2 separate regions of the Homo sapiens genome follow, and region 1 is linked to region 2. A link means that fine-mapping ties the variant in region 2 to the expression of a gene that starts in the linked region. Tissue or cell type: whole blood. Region 2 holds a variant in brackets; the other region holds the start of a gene. All regions are shown on one strand. Distances are between the middles of the regions.

Evidence for each region. PIP is the estimated chance that this variant, and not a neighbour inherited with it, causes the effect.
Region 1: MAPKBP1 starts here. The variant in region 2 is fine-mapped to the expression of MAPKBP1 in whole blood (TOPMed, PIP 0.98).

What each region holds. Positions count from the first base shown.
Region 1 is chr15:41,770,583-41,778,582 of GRCh38, forward strand. It overlaps MAPKBP1 (mitogen-activated protein kinase binding protein 1), which reads left to right and starts at 3,902. Exons shown (of 31, transcript NM_014994.3): 1 at 3,902-4,028; 2 at 4,585-4,807. The coding sequence starts at 4,694. RefSeq lists an enhancer at 3,349-3,398.
Region 2 is chr15:41,697,038-41,705,037 of GRCh38, forward strand. MGA (MAX dimerization protein MGA) reads left to right here. Exons shown (of 24, transcript NM_001400225.1): 4 at 1,826-1,904; 5 at 2,027-2,122. Among named protein-coding and RNA genes, the nearest start is that of MIR626, 9.5 kb to the left of the region's middle. The variant G/A (reference allele first, on the strand shown) is at 3,200.

The DNA.
Region 1 (8,000 bases), 74 kb after region 2:
CTAACTATACTGGTTGAGATATTTGAAATCAAATAGGGTGATGCACTTTAAAAACGGGTCTAGAAAATAGTGACAGCCCTTGTCCCTCACTCCAGAATTAAACAACAACAAACCATACACAGCACATTTTCCAGGTACTTTTATAGAGAATGACTGATAACCAAGAATCAGAATACATTTCTTGCACAAAACTGTTGGTTTTGAAGAAGGTGCTGTAAAGGCATCAGTACTTCATGTCACTGTATTATCACTAATGAAATTTTTATTTTTATTTTTTTTGAGGCAGAGTCTCACTCTGTCGCCCAGGCTGGAGTGCAGTGGTGCCGTCTTGGCTCACTGCAAGCTCTGCCTCCCGGGTTTACGCCATTGTCCTGCCTCAGCCTCCGGAGTAGCTGGGACTACAGGCGCCCGACACTGTGCCCGGCTAATTTTTTTGTATTTTTTTGTAGAGACAGGGTTTCACCATGTTAGCCAGGATGGTCTCAATCTCCTGACCTTGTGATCCGCCCGCCTCGGCCTCCCAAAGTGCTGGGATTACAGGCGTGAGCCACTGCGCCCGGCCTACTAATGAAATTTTACATGGACACAAATATCTAGGTGCAGGGAAAATTAAAGCTGAGATATTCAGACTCACTGCCAGTTGGAGGAAAAAAATCAGTTATAACGCATTTTTTGGAATAGAGGGAAATAATTTGATAAGTACAACTTTTTGTTTGAGGTGTAGCTAATGTTAGACATGACTGAGCTGTTCTACACATAAGTGTTGAATAGTGATGGTGGTGCATTAAGAGGATGGGAAGACTATGGGATGAGTTGGAAATTTTGAGACAAATCTAAACTCTACTAATTTCTATTGTTGTAAACTCTGCTGGTAGAAAAGATATTAAGTAGGAAAGCAGTCTTGGAAGCATGGTTTTGAGATCCATTGTGTTTCCAACTGCAATCATTGATCTCAGCTGTTGCACAGTGCCTTTGCATGTAAAGGTGCTCAATAAATATTTGAATTGATGAGCAAATGTTTAGACTGTTTCCCAGGAACTTATACCTTATTTGCATGTTATGCCTAGGGTGAATTTTAAAATTTGATCTAATGAGTATAGTGCTAAACAGACAACTATATAACGTCTATTCCCCAGACATCTAGAATTTCAGAAGCTGGCAAACACTATGTATAGATGTTTAGGACATATAAAAGTAGAATAAAGTGTTAAATAGTGTATGGATGATGAAATACTTATGAAGAGTTAACTGCATTTTGGAGGATTGGGATGGCAAGTAGAGTCATGCGTCACTTAATGATGGGGATACGTTCTGAGAAATGCACCTTGGGTGGTTTTGTTCTGCAAACATCATAGAGTGTACTGTACTTAAACAAACCTAGATGGTGTTGCTTAACCACACACCTAGGCTGTGTTGCTCCTAGGCTACAACTCTGTACAGCATGTTAACTGCACTGAATATCATAGGCAGTTGTAACACGTGGTGTTTGTGTGTCTACACATAGGAAAGGTATGGTAAAAATATGATATTATAATTTAATGGGATCATGTGGTCATTGAAATGTATACAGTGCATGACTGTAAATCTGAGTGGAGAAAAGTGAATAATGCTTCTGTTCACATTAGACCTGGGACTGTTATTTTCTGAGGAATTAATGAAGAATGGGAATAGCCTATATAGCTTATTCCTATATTGGTATCTCAAAGGCAGTGTAGTACCTAGACAATAAAAGTTGGACTGAATTGTGAAGAATTAAAAATGTGTGGGCCGGGCATGGTGGCTCACGCCTGTAATCCTGGCACTTTGGGAGGCCAAGGCAGGCGGATCACGAGGTCAGGAGATCGAGACCTCCTGGCCAACATGGTGAAACCCCATCTTTACTAAAAATACAAAAATTAACTGGGTGTGGTGGCGCGTGCCTGTAATCCCAGCTACTCGGGAGGCTGAGGCAAGAGAATGGCTTGAAACCAGGAGTCGGAGGTTGCAGTGAGCTGAGATCGCCACTGCAGTCCAGTCTGGGGACAGAGCAAGACTCTGTTTAAAAAAAAAAAAAAAAAAAAAAAAAAAGCGTGGCTTTGGCCTAAGACTGGAAGTACCCAGATTCCAGACTTAAGAAATCCTCATTAAAATGCTTTCAGTTGTTTTTCATGAAAGAAATGACCAGTGATACTTTGTAAACCATTTATCTGGCCATGAGTGATCAGGTGAGAAAACCGTTAGCGGACACCAGAATGATCTGGAGAGGATTAGGGACGGCTCTTGTGGGCACATTTTTACTCTAGTTTCATGGGTGGAGATGGCATCTGCCGTGGTCTGCAGCATGCAAGTAAAGACACCAGGTGGCACCATTTATTAGCTTTCAATCCCATGGAGAGGTCCCATCATGTAACTACCAAGAGGTTGAAGGAACCAACTACCTCTTGCATATTGTAGCTAATGGTTCTTGCCTTCTTCTTCCAGACTTGGGAAATAAATTTGAAAATCGTATTTTCTGTTTCATAATATTTGCAGTGCATGGTTGAAGGGAAGAAGGCCACGTGCTATTGCCAGTTGGTCTCCAGGAGGTGACATCCATCATCTCCATGTCAACTTGTGAGCTTTACAAATCTAATTTTCAGTACGTGGCTACAGTATACACAAGAAAATATGTGCTTTGCCACTTGGCTCTAAAGGCTCACCGTTGTACACAAGCAATGAGTTTAGGGGTTCTTCCCTCTTGTTATCACATGTCATCTCCACAGGGTTTCAAAAGATCTGGATAGGGTGAGACAGACACACCAGTGTAGTACTCCCTTGGGTCCCTTGTCTTTGGCTTAGGCTTTTTCATAAGGTATAATAATTTGTTAGAGGTTCTTCCCTCTTGCAGACACATGTCATCTCCACAGGGATTCAAAAGATCTGGATAGGGTGAGACGGACACACCAGTGTACTATTCCCTTGGGACCCAAGTCTCTGGCTTAGGCTTTTTCATAAGGTGATTTCTTGTGGTAGTAGTCAAGTGGAGAATACTCAGGAAATACTATTTCATGTAACATTTCCGTGTATTCCCTCTGCCTCCCCCGACATGAGTTAGAAAACTACCCCTCGATCTAGTATCAGCAAGCTCGACAGTGACCTCAGCAAGGAACAGCCCTAGATAAAAGGATTCATAAGTAAATGGAATGAGGAAAAGATCTGGAGCAACAAAGTCCTGGTCAGCTTTAGGTGAGGAAGCACAATGGGATGTTGGAGGCTAAAGAAGCCATGAAACCTAAAGTATTATAACATAGCATATTCACTTCTCTTTCCCCCGCACGCCCAAAGCTCTGTTCAAGGCCACCCTTTCCCCTTTCATGATGACCAGGTTGCCCAGTGCAAAAATACTGTTCTTAGCTATTAAATTGCATTACTCAGAATAATCCTTTCCACGTTGAGTCTACGTGCCGGACTGGCTGCGAGCAGAAACTACTTCAGTCGCTTTAAATCTCAACACTTGTGGTCGCTGGGAGCAGAGCTTTTAGGCTGTAGCTCAGTCTTGTAATTCTGAGCTAGGAGTTTCAGCTACGGTCCCTCGGGCCTATCAGATGACAACCTTAACACCCTGGAGGCGTGGTTATCGTCTTGGGGCTCTGGGAAGTGCAGTTCCATGGGGGACCAGGCCTGATAATACCATAAAAGGCTTGGTTCTCTCAATTCTGAAGCCATGTTCTGTTGACCTTCCTCTAAAAGCGGTACCCGCAATTGTGCGGATTCCGTGGTTCCCTAGTCCCAAGCCGTCTGCTTCCTGGGCCCTTTCATTGGCTCCGCCCCCGTAAACCTTGCTCGTCCACTCTGGAAGCGCTCTCCTGACTACAGGCCGCGCCCCTCGCGTCGGCTCCGCCCACCCAGCCCGCGGCTTGGCCCAGGCGGTAGTTCGCGTTTTGAGCCGATCGTGCCACCATAGCTCCTGCTGCTGCCTCTACCGCTGCGGCTACCGCGGCGGAGCTGAAATTGCCGAACGCGATGCCCGAGGGCGCTGTGAGCGGGGTGGCCTTAGCTCGCCGAGGCTGGTGAGGCTGGGCCCGAACGGGGGCGCTGACGAGTAGCAGGGGCCTCAGAGGCGGGTGAAAGATAAAGGTCCAGAGCCGCTGTGGAGGGCGGAGAGCGAGCTCTGGAGGATAGGGAGTGGGGGAGGGAGGCTCCCGTGGCAGAACGAGTTGTGGGCTACGGCGAGCCCCGCCGCGTCCCCGCCGGCGCTAGCGCAGGTGTCCAGGCCTGCGGAAATCCCTGGTGGTCTCGGCGGCCTCCTCCCTTGGACACTACAGTTGCCATGGGAACAGTTGGGCATTAACGGGAACCAGATCGTCCACGAGACCAACTGGGGCCCATCCCATCCATCTCGCCAGTTAAACGCCTCTGGCGGGCGTGGGCCTGGCATTTCTTCGTGGCTTAGGATTTTCCCCCCCTTTTTCGTGAGCCTTTCCTTCCGACGTTGTAAGAAACTGTGCAGGGCTAGAAGGTGGGGATGAGGGAAATGGTGAGAGCAATACCCAGAGGTAAAAGCTGCAGACTTCGCTAGGCAGAAGGTAAGACACTGTGATACTAAGGTGGCTTCTGCCATCTCAGGTCAGTGAGAGGGCATACTGGGAAGCCCTCTGGAGTGGGAAGACAGTGCCGCTGTTGAGACAAGACCCAGGACTGGGCCGGGGACTGTCCCAAAGGGTTTCTCGTCATAATGGCTGTGGAAGGGTCAACCATTACCAGCCGGATCAAGAATCTGTTGAGATCTCCATCCATCAAACTGCGCAGGAGTAAGGCAGGAAACCGACGAGAGGACCTCAGCTCCAAGGTGAGTCCTGTTGGGATCCACCTCTTTCCAAACCCACCCTCTCCTGCTCCATGTTCCTCGTTAACCTTCCTGTTTCTTGGGAAAGATAACTAGAAGCCCTTGTTGACTCTAAAGGATCACATATGATCTCTGCAGGCAATGATTTGGTTTTAGGTTGAAGGAAAAAGAGCAGCAGGGGTGGGCATGCTGAGATTCATCCATGAGAAAAGGTGAATAGTAGGAAGACCACCTGGGTTCAATTGTGGCCTCACTATACACTAAGCATGTGCTTGGGAAGCCAGTTGATATGCTATGACTCAGTTTCCCTTCTTGGGAGAGGACAGTAGGAACACATACCTTGTGAAGGGCTAAGCTGTGACTAATGTAGCTGCAGGTGTTAACGTAACAGCTGGGGTTATGTAAGACTGTAGTGGCAGAAAGAAATATGCTAAAACACCTAGTCAGAGTTACTGGCTTGGTAATTGCTCTTGCCTACGGTGAAAACAAATTTTTTTTGTCTCTTCAAGAGGCTAACTGGAGCCTTTTGGCTTCTTAGGAATAACATGCAAGAAGCCAGATATCTGTCAGCAAAACAGTTCTGGATGGCCCTTGAGCATTGCTTATCTCATTCACTATATGCCAAGAGCCACATCCCACTCAGCTGCAGATGATCCTCAGAGGCAAAGTTCCTTTCCATCGCTTCACTTGTCTGTGTTTTGGTCCTTATGCTTTTTCAACTAAATAAACCCCACAACTTTGGGAATCCAGAAGTAGTCGACATTTATTTAATCCCTTGAGGGAATCCAGGGCTTTACTCCCACAGGATCAGATCAGATTTTGTGTCTTATTAGTAGCCTGTAAACCCAATAGGGTTGTGAGGTACAAGGTTGTTACAGGGAGAGGCATTTGAGACCACAGCATTGTATTGCTTTGCCTGTATCTCTTCAGTGATGAGTAAATCCCATGAGGAATGATTTAGAATGCCACTGTACAAATGGCAGGGTTCTGGGAGGACTTAGTTCAGCCCTGTGTTCCTTAGCAGAACTTTGAGTAGATTTGGTAAGAAGGTGAAGAGCTTTCCTGTATATTTCAGCAGAAGTTGTGTTGAATCACAGTTTGCTACAAGGTTTTGTGATGGTGGACATTGTGACCCTTCCAAGGTCTCTTATTCATCATTGTTTCTATTCTCCTGAGGCAGGCAAAGAAGCCTGAAATGTAGAAATTGCCTTAGATATGACTCTGTTCATTCTTAATACTGCAAGTGCTCTTATTCTTGGCTGGTAGCTTGGCAGTGACCAGCACTGTTAGAGCAATCTTCTCCAATCTTTGGCCTCTTTTTCTGGCCAGGAATGATATATGTAGTAGAAACATATAATGAGAGTTTAGCCTTCATTGTTAATTCTTACTGTAATTTTGGTCTGGAATCCAGAAAGTATAGTTGCCATTCTTTAAGACTTCCAATATCATCCATTATTAATGCATTTAACAAGTGTTTATTGAGTGCCTATGAAGTGTGCAATCAGTGATGGGTAAAACATTACCCTTGCCATCAAAGAGCTTATGGCTAGTCAGACATGTAAACAATTAAAACACGGTGTGGTAAGTGCTGCTGTAGAAGTATGTGTACGTTGTTAATGGAAGCACAGGGGAGGCGACCTAAGTCAGTTCAGAGGAATTAGGAAAGGCTTCACAGGCCAGGCATGGTGGCTCACCCCTGTAATCCCAGCACTTTGGGAGGCCAAGGCGGATGGATCACTAGGTCAGGAGTTCGAAACCAGCCTGGTCAAGATGGTGAAACCTCATCTCTACTAAAAATACAAAAATTAGCCGGGCGTGGTGGTGCATGTCTGTAATCCCAGCTACTCGGGAGGCTGAGGCAGGAGACTCGCCTGAACCCGGGAGGCTGAGGTTGCAGTGAGCTCAGATCCTGCCAGTGCACTCTAGCCTGGGTAACAGAGCAAGACTCCGTCTCAAAAAAAAAAAAAAAAGGAAAGGCTTCACAGAGGAAGGGATGCTTGAACTGTGAGTCCTAAGGCAGGTGGAGAAGAGCTCTCCAGGAAAACAGTGGAAAAGGGGCATCCCTGGCAAGACCATTTACCATTCCCTGTTTAAAATAGGAATTCAGTGCTTCAGACTGCTTTAGATGGCTTTGTCTGTCCTGAAGCTGTGTATGAAAGAAATACTTAGCTGAAGTTGAATGACCCTTGAATGGTCTGGCAGCAAAATGACTGGTGCATATCTTTAGCACCCAAGAGGAGTAGCTGTCTTTGTGCGCCCAGGACCCTAGAGATGCCAGACTCCCCACACTCCTTAGTAAAAGGTCTCTACCTGAGATTATTCTAAAAGCCTGCCTTGTGATTACTCTAGTGTATTAAGCTCTGTGAGTTGCTCTAACATGTGGTGGCTGTGAGTAATCATGATAACAGGAAATTTGTGATTCATGGATAGCTAATTCTCAAATAAAATTTGAAGACAAAAAGGTACATGCCCCTTTTGGGGGGCAAAGAAGGAAATGTCAGAAAGCTTTTATGCAGCTCTTACTTCAGATGGCCTCCTGCTTTGAATTATACTGTTCTTTCTATCTAAAGTAGCCTTCTCCTTTACACCAAATTGTACACTTATTTTTAGGTCCAATTCTGTATTTATCAGAGCCACAGGGCTTTCTGTGACTAGTCCCCCACCTTGAAACCAATATCTTATTGTTATTTTATGTATGTCTTCATTTCCTAAGGATCGGGGTCATGCTCTTTATTTCCTTTACATCACACCGTTTAGGACAGTGTAAGATAGGCAGTAAGTACTAAAAAAAATAAATGAGACTAATTTAAAGATGTCAAATATAGTGCGGGATAAACTTGGACATCCAGGTGAATAAAATAATCAGGAGGAATTTATGACCTCTTTAGAAGAGAGATCAAAACTACGATTAATAAAATGGTGACAAAGAAGTAGAGATGCAGCCTAATTAGGTGTGAAGAACATAAGAGAGAAGAAGTCCACGTATGCAGAAAGCAGTGCTCAGTAAAGGGTTCTTAATTCAGGGGAGACCTAGTTAAAAATATGGCTAAAAGCTGGTGTGAGAGAGCCAGTGGAGGTGGAGATTTAAGTTACATCAAAGAGTAGATGAGTGCTGAGATTTTTATTAAGCTTTTTCAGAGGGAGGGGAGTCTCTTCAGTGGAGTACATTGGAAAAGACTGATTTAAAGTTTTATGC
Region 2 (8,000 bases):
TTCAGGATTCTTTAAGGCTAATTAGTCATACTTGAATTGTATACTGGCTTGTAAGTAACTCGATTTACAATCTAGTTTTGTGATATCTATTTGTGAGGGTGTATGGGGGGTGGAGTTGGGAGGGAAGTGTCTCCAAAATGTTTGGTTTAGTTAATAGGAATAACTTAAGATACTTCATTTGAATAGACTTAAAAAAGTATGTCTTGCTTAGATTTCAGTTTACGATTTTTGCATAGCTGTGTTTAAAAAAAGTCTTCGGGTCTTACTGGAATTTTCATCATTATGGATTTTGGAAAGGACTAAAAATACATGAAATATTTACTAACTCTTTGGTGACGCTCCATTTCTTTTACCTCCTGGTTTTCTTTTATTTTTCTTTTCTTTTTTTTTTTTTTTTGAGACAGAGTCTTGCTCTGTTGCCCAGGCTGGAGTTCAGTGGCACGATCTCAGCTCACTGCAATCTCCGTCTCCCGAGTTCAAGCCATTCTCGTGCCCCAGCCTCACGAGTAGCTGGGATTACAGGCGTGTGCCACCACACCCAGCTAATTTTTGTAATTTTGGTAGAGACGGGGTTTTGCAATGTTGGCCAGCTAATTTCTAACTTCTGGCCTCCAGCAGTCTGCCTGCTTCAGCCTCCCAAAGTGCTGGGATTACATGCATGAGCCACCGCTCCTGGCCCTGGTTTTCAGTAGTAGTAGTAGAGTACCATTGGAGAACCAAATATTAACAGTCATCTTAACTCTCCTGTCTTACACATTGAAGTCTCTGTTTATTCCACTCTGACTCTTCAACCAGATTATTTTTCTTGGAAATTTTTATAGAAGCCCAGTCTTTTTTTATTTATTTTTTGAGATGGAGTCTCGGTCTGTGGCTCATGCTGGAGTGCAGTAGCGCAATCTTGGCTCACTGCAAACTCCGCCTCCTGTGTTCTTGCCATTCCCCTGCCTCAGACTCCCGAGTAGCTGGGACTACAGGTGCTCGCCACCATGCCCGGCTAATTTTTTTTGTATTTTTAGTAGAGACGGGGTTTCACCATATTAGCCAGGATGGTCTCGATCTCCTGGCCTCGTGATCCTCCTGCCTCAGCCTCCCAAAGTGCTGGAATTACAAGCGTGAGCCACTGCCCCTGGCCTCTTTTTTTTTTTTTTTTTGAGACGGAATCTTGCTCTGTCACCAGCTGGAGTGCAGTGGCACAATCTTGGCTCACTGCAACCTCTGTTTCCCGGGTTCAAGCAGTTCCCCTGCCTCAGCCTCCCGAGTAGCTGGGACTACAGGTGTGCATCACCATGCCCAGCTATTTTTTTTATTTTAGTAGAGACAGGGTTTCACCATGTGGCCAGGATGGTCTCAATCTCCTGACCTTGTGATCCACCTGCCTCGGCCTCCCAAAGTGCTGGGATTATAGGCGTGAGCCACTGTGCCAGGCTGTCTTTCTTAATTGACTACACAGATGTTGGATATTTAATCCCTTCTACCTGTTCTTTTCCTCCCTTCTTGTTAGCTGAGTAAGCTATCTGAATATAGGCTCTGAGAAGTGAACATGCAAATTGGCGTATACTTTGAGGTCAGTTAGCTCAGTATGACATCGTATTCACATTTTTTTACTTCCCCCTTTTCCCCTTCTGATTATTAAAGTAATATTAATGTAGAACACTTAGAAAATATCAAAAAGTATGAAAAAATTGCTCCTGTTCTGCCAATGTTAGCGTAACTGTAGGCATGGAGATATTTTCCTTCTGGTCTTTAAGTTTTTTTTAATCCTGTTTTACATTTAAGTTTTCAGAAGCAATATGAACTACTATTTTTTTTTTTTTTTGATGTATAGGAAGCTCTAGACATTCATGCAGTTGATGGGACAACAGAAGAATCTTCTAGTCTCCAGGCATCAACCACAAATGACTCAGGTATTATAAAATAGTATAAAAAGAGTTGTATTTGTGGTTTGGGCTCCAGCAATGAAACATGCAACATTCATTTGTCTGTAGTGTACAGTAGCTTATTTTATTACTATTTATTTTGGGTGTAGGTTACAGAGCAAGAATTTCCCAGTTGGAAAAGGAATTGATAGAAGATTTGAAGACTTTGCGGCACAAGCAGGTGATACATCCTGGTCTTCAAGAAGGTAATAGACTAGCGACTTCTTTTTTTTTGTTTTCTTTTTTTCTTTCTTCCCTACTGTTTCTCCTCTTTTTCCTCTCTCTTTCTCATCTCTTTTTTTCTGTTTTTTCCTCTTTCTTTCTAGCCTTGATTTCATTTCTTTCAGCACGTCTTTCAGTTTGCATATTTTTCTCTTCTCTGTCTCCATAATTCTTCCCTTTAGTTTAAAAACCATGTCTAATATCTTATGTAAGAAAAAAATGTATCATGGTAAAGCAAGTGATATTTTCTTTGTTCATTCTTATAACCTGGTATTCTCCCCTTCCCGTTTCTCATCTTAATTTGGTTGCTTTTGTTTATGTGTGTGTGTGTGTGTTTGTTTGAGACGGAGTTTCGCTCTGTCGCCCAGGCGGCTGGAGTGCAGTGGTGCAATCTCTGCTCACTGCAAGCTCCGCCTCCTGGGTTCATGCCATTCTCCTGCCTCAGCCTCCCAAGTAGCTGGGACCACAGGCGCCTGCCACCGCGCCTGGCTAATTTTTTTGTATTTTTAGTAGAGACGGTTTCACCGTGTTAGCCAGGATGGTCTTGATCTCCTGACCTTGTGATCCGCCCGCCTCGGCCTCCCAATTATGTGTTTGTTTTTATAATTTTGGAGGAAGGGTCTTCCTTGTCCTTTAGTAGTATATTTAGGTGTGTAAACAGTAGAATACTTTTCTGTCTCATGTTTTGGCTGCAAACATCTATTTTATATATTTGATGTACCACTGGGAAGTTAATTTAAAATTTTCATTATCTTTTTTTTTTAAAATTTTACTTTGAGTTCTGGGATACGTGTACAGAATGTGCAGGTTACATAGTTATACATGTGCTATGGTGGTTTCCTGTACCTATCAACCTGTCATCGAGGTTTTTTTTTTTTTTTTTTTTTTTGATGCGCAGTCTCGCTCTCGCCCAGGCTGGAGTGCAGTGGCACGATCTCAGCTCACTGCAAGCTCTGCCTCCTGGGTTCACACCACTCTCCTGCCTCAGCCTCCCAAGTAGCTGGGACTACAGGCGCCTGCTACCATGCCCGGCTAATTTTTTTTGTATTTTTAGTAGAGAC[G/A]GGGTTTCACTGTGTTAACCAGGATGGTCTCGATCTCCTGACCTCATGATCTGCCCGCCTCGGCCTCCCAAAGTGCTGAGATTACAGGCGTGAGCCACCGCGCCCGGCCCTGTCATCTAGGTTTTAAGCCCTGCATGCATTAGGTGTTTGTCCTAATGCTCTCCCTCCCCACCAACAGGCTCTGGTGTGTGATGTTCCCCTCCTTGCATCCATGTGTTCTCATTGTTCATCTCCCACTTACGAGTGAAAACATGCAGTGTTTGGTTTTCTGTTCCTATGTTAGTTTGCTTAGAATAATGGCTTCCAGCTTCATCCATGTCCCTGCAAAGGGCATGAACTCATTCTTTTTTATGGCTGCAGTTTTCATTTTTATCTTTATTTTATTGTAATGCATTATCTTGACCTTGATTATGTTGCTTAATCTTTAAAAAAACATATCTACTATGGTTATTAACATCATGATCACTACCAATTTTCCTGTTTTGGGGTGTAATGAAAAATTTTAGGCTGTGCCCCAATTTTTAGTTTCTTACGACTATCTTTGATTTTAGATAGGCATCTTGGAGTAGTTTTTTGAATTTTTGACTCATTAATTTTCAGAAGGGTGTCTAGACTATTTACACTATAAGTAGTTCATTTACCTGAGAGTCTAAACATTATAAGTTATCAAACAAAAGATTTATATGCTGGTCATTCCGTTTCTAAATCAAATGGTAATACTTGAAGAATTTTTGCTTTAATGGAAGGCAGCTTGTGTGACAGTGCGATCTTAAAAGTGTGCAGATCCCAGTCTCAGTCAATCAATGTGGGCTGATTGCTGTGGATTGTAATAGACAGTCACATCATAGCAATCTTGCAGATAACGTTTGCTGCTGTTTATTGTCAGCTTTAGCTTCTGCTATTTTATTTAAATAATATTATCTTATTTCTCCCTATCTTTTTTTCTCCCCTTTTCCTTTCTTCATTTCTCCCTATCTTTAACTTAACCTGTCTTCTCCCTTTTCCACTTCCATTTTTTTTGTTATTTTCTTGATAATGTAGAAATATTATGACATTTATATTGTGTTCTTTTAACTTAATCTCCCACATTTTAAAAATCTTAGTTCTAGAGTTAAATATATTCAGTGCTTGCAGCTGGTCCTTTTGCTCTGGTTTATTTGCCTAGTATTTGCTGGTTGGCTAAGCTTTGACTGTTTTTCTTTCTTTTATAGACATCTTAGTCAAATTTGTAATCGTTTCCTTAATGGAATGGGGTGTTCAAAGGCCAGTGTTTATGGAAACTGACTAGGTAACATATATAGTGAAATTAGCCTGAATTTGGGGGGTAGAGTTGGACTCTGGTCGGGTAGAGTACAGGCACTTCTTCTAAAGGGACAGCTGCATCAGTGGATTGTTGTCATATGGAAAAATGGGCCCAAAATTCTCAGGTCTGCTCATAGTTCAGTAGAAGCTGGAGTGGCTATGTGATGTCTCTGAAGTGGTGGCAGCTAATAGTTTTTTGGGCACCTAACTCAAAGCTTTAAAAACACAGCCAAACAAAAGGTGTCTGAGCTATTACTTTTCACCTTCTTTATAGATTCTACATTTGGTGCAAGTTTGTATTTAATCCTAAGGTTTTTAAAATTTATTCAACTACATGCTGACACAGTTTTGTTTTTTTGAAAAACAATTAAATCTGTAATCTGTCTGGTACTTACTTTTCAATGTGTGAAGTGGAGTCCTGTTTTGGGTTTTTTTTCCTCTATTTTATTTTAGCATATTTTTCTCCCCAACCTTGGCTTCCTTTAAAAAGCCATACTTGGGCCAGGCTCGGTGGCTCAAGTCTGTAATCCCAGCACTTTGAGAGGCCAAGGCGGGTGGATCACTTGAGGTTGGGAGTTCGAGACTAGCCTGGCCAACGTGGCGAAACTCCGTCTCTACTAAAAATACAAAAAATTAGCCAGGTGTGGTGGTGAGCACCTGCAATCCCAGCTACTTGGGAGGCTGAGGCAGGAGAATTGCTTGAAAACCCGGGAGGCGGAGCTTGCAGTGAGCCGAGATCGCGCCACCACACTCCAGCCTGGGCGACACAGTGAGACATTGTCTCAAAAAAAAAAAAAAAAGCTGGACTTAAACAGTTTCTGAAGAGTAAGTTAATTTGGCTAAATATTTGTATTAACTGGGTGATGCCAATCCCAGGGCTCTGAAGAGAATGAAAGTATTCCAGGTTCATCTCTAAAATTTGATTCTTGAAATAATTTGTTGAATTTCAACTTAATGTCATATTTCCTTGTCCTGCTATTAACTATAATTTCATTAATTAGAAAATAGCAGTTAAACTTCTTCTGAGCTGAAAACCCTTGAAAAACTAGAAAAGCTTTTTGAATTTGCTTTAAAATTGGGAAAGCAGTGTTGATTAAGCCTGGGAAAATGTTATATTGTTGTTGGTAGTTTTACTTAAAAATAAAATAAGATTCTTAATTTTTCTTTCCGTGGTACTATATTTTTGTTTGCTATATTTACTGTATCTACATTGGTCTGCTTTTTAAGTCTGTTAGCTTATCTGAAATTATCGTCTGTCTTTGCATTTTAAAAGTGTGTTTAAAGCATTTCTCCTTCATTGCTACCAAGTCAATTATTGTCAGTTTTTTATTAAAGCTTTATGTTTTGGAAGAGTTTTAGATTTATAGAAAAATTAAGAACACAGTGCAGAGAATACCTATTTTTTTTCCCCCCATTCCTAATTCTCTCAGTATCCAGAATTTCTCCTATTAATATCTAACATAAGATTGGTACATTTGTTACAGTTAGTGAACCAGTACTGATATATTACTATTTAAAGTTCATACTTTATTCAGATTTCCTTAGTTTTTACCCAATGTCCTTTTTTTTGCATCTAGGATCCCATTCAGGATACCACAAGACTTTTAGTAGTGATGTCTCCTTAGGATCTTCCTGGTTGTGACAGTTTCTCAGATTTTGTGTTTAATGACCTTGACAGTTTTGAAGAGTCAGGTATTTTTATAGATGTCCCTCAGTTGAGACTTATCATCTCATCATATCAAGAGTACATACATTAACATGATTTATCACTATTGATGTTGACCTTGATCACCTGGCTAAGATATTGTCAGTTTATTCATTGTGAAGTTACCCCCCCCCCCACTCCCCACCCTCCCTTTCTCTCCATATTGTACTCTTTGGAAGGAAGTCATTATGCTTAGCTCACACTTAATGTGCAAGAAGTTATATTGTACCTCCTTGAGTGTAGCCTATCTATATAAGTTATTTGTAGTTATTTTGCACCAGAGATTTATCTATTCTTCTTTTTAAAAAATTCACTTAGATGAAACTCCATCTCTACTAAAAATACAAAATTTACTGGGTGTGGTGGTGCGTGCCTGTAATCCCAGTTACTCTGGAGGCTGAGGCAGGAGAATTGCTTGAAACTGGGAGATGGAGGTTGCAGTGAGTGGAGATCCTGCCACTGCACTCCAGCCTGGGCAACAGAGCGAGACTGTCTCAAAAAATAAAAATAAAAAATTCACTTATCAGTGTGGACTCTTGTCAGTTTTAATGTTTTGTTTTGGTTTTTGGTTGTTGTTTTTGAGACAGGGTCTCGCTTTGTCACCCAGCCTAGGCTATAGTGCAGTGATGTGAACATGGCTCACTGCAGTCTCGACCTCCTGAGCCCCAGTGATCACATGTCAGCCCCCCAAGTAGCTGGGACTACAAGCACATGCCACCACACCTGGCTAATTTTTTTTGGTATTTTTTTGTAGAGATGGGGTTTTGCCATGTTGCCCAGCCTGGTCTCGAACTCTTCAGCTCAAGAGGTCTGCCCGCCTTGGCCTCCTGAAGTGGTGGGATTATAGGCATGAGCCATTATGTCTGGCCGGTTTTAATGTTAATTTCCTTTATGAGTAATGACAATATTTCAAGAACTGTCTTCCTCTTCCTTTTTTAGTAATTTAATAAAAATGCTTTATTTTTCCTTAAAATATTTTTTTTTAGAGATGGGGTCTCCCAGTTTTGCCTAGGCTTGTCTCAAACTCCTGGCTTCAGCCCATCCTCCCAAGTAGCTGGAATTACAAGTGTGAGCCATGGTGCCCTGCAGTAAAAAAAAAAAAATTCTGAATGTTACATTAAATTAGTGATTAGCGGCCAGGCGCGGTGGCTCACGCCTGTAATCCCAGCACTTTGGGAGGCCAAGGCGGGTGGATCACAAGGTCAGGAGATCGAGACCATCCTGGTAACACGGTGAAACCCTGTCTCTACTAAAAATACAAAAAATTAGCCAAGAGTGGTGGTGGGCACCTGTAGTCCCAGCTGCTGGGGAGGCTGAAGCAGGAGAATGGCTTGAACCTGGGAGGCGGAGCTTGCAGTGAGTGGAGATCGTGCCACTGCACTCCAGCCTGGGTGACAGAGCAAGACTCCGTCTCAAAAACAAAACAAAACAAAAAAAATTGGTGATTAGCTGGAGTTTTCCTTATAATATGTGCTTTTCTATTCTGTGTTTACTACTTATATAGGTGTTTATAGAACTATAAACATCTTGAGTGTACTTTTGTATTTCAGTGGTTTTAGCTAGCAGTTGGCATTTTTGGCTATATCTTATTGTAGGTGAATCTGTCTTTGCTTGAATCTAAAGGTTATCTCTTTTCAGCTTTATCTTTATGAGTCTTTTTTTGTAATGACATTATAACACATTTTTAAGAAGTAGCTTCTAATATGGTGAAATGAAGCAAAACGATTTAGAAATATAGTTTAAACTGACATGTAGACAAGATTTTAGGTTCTAAGTAGGCTCTGGTTGAATAAA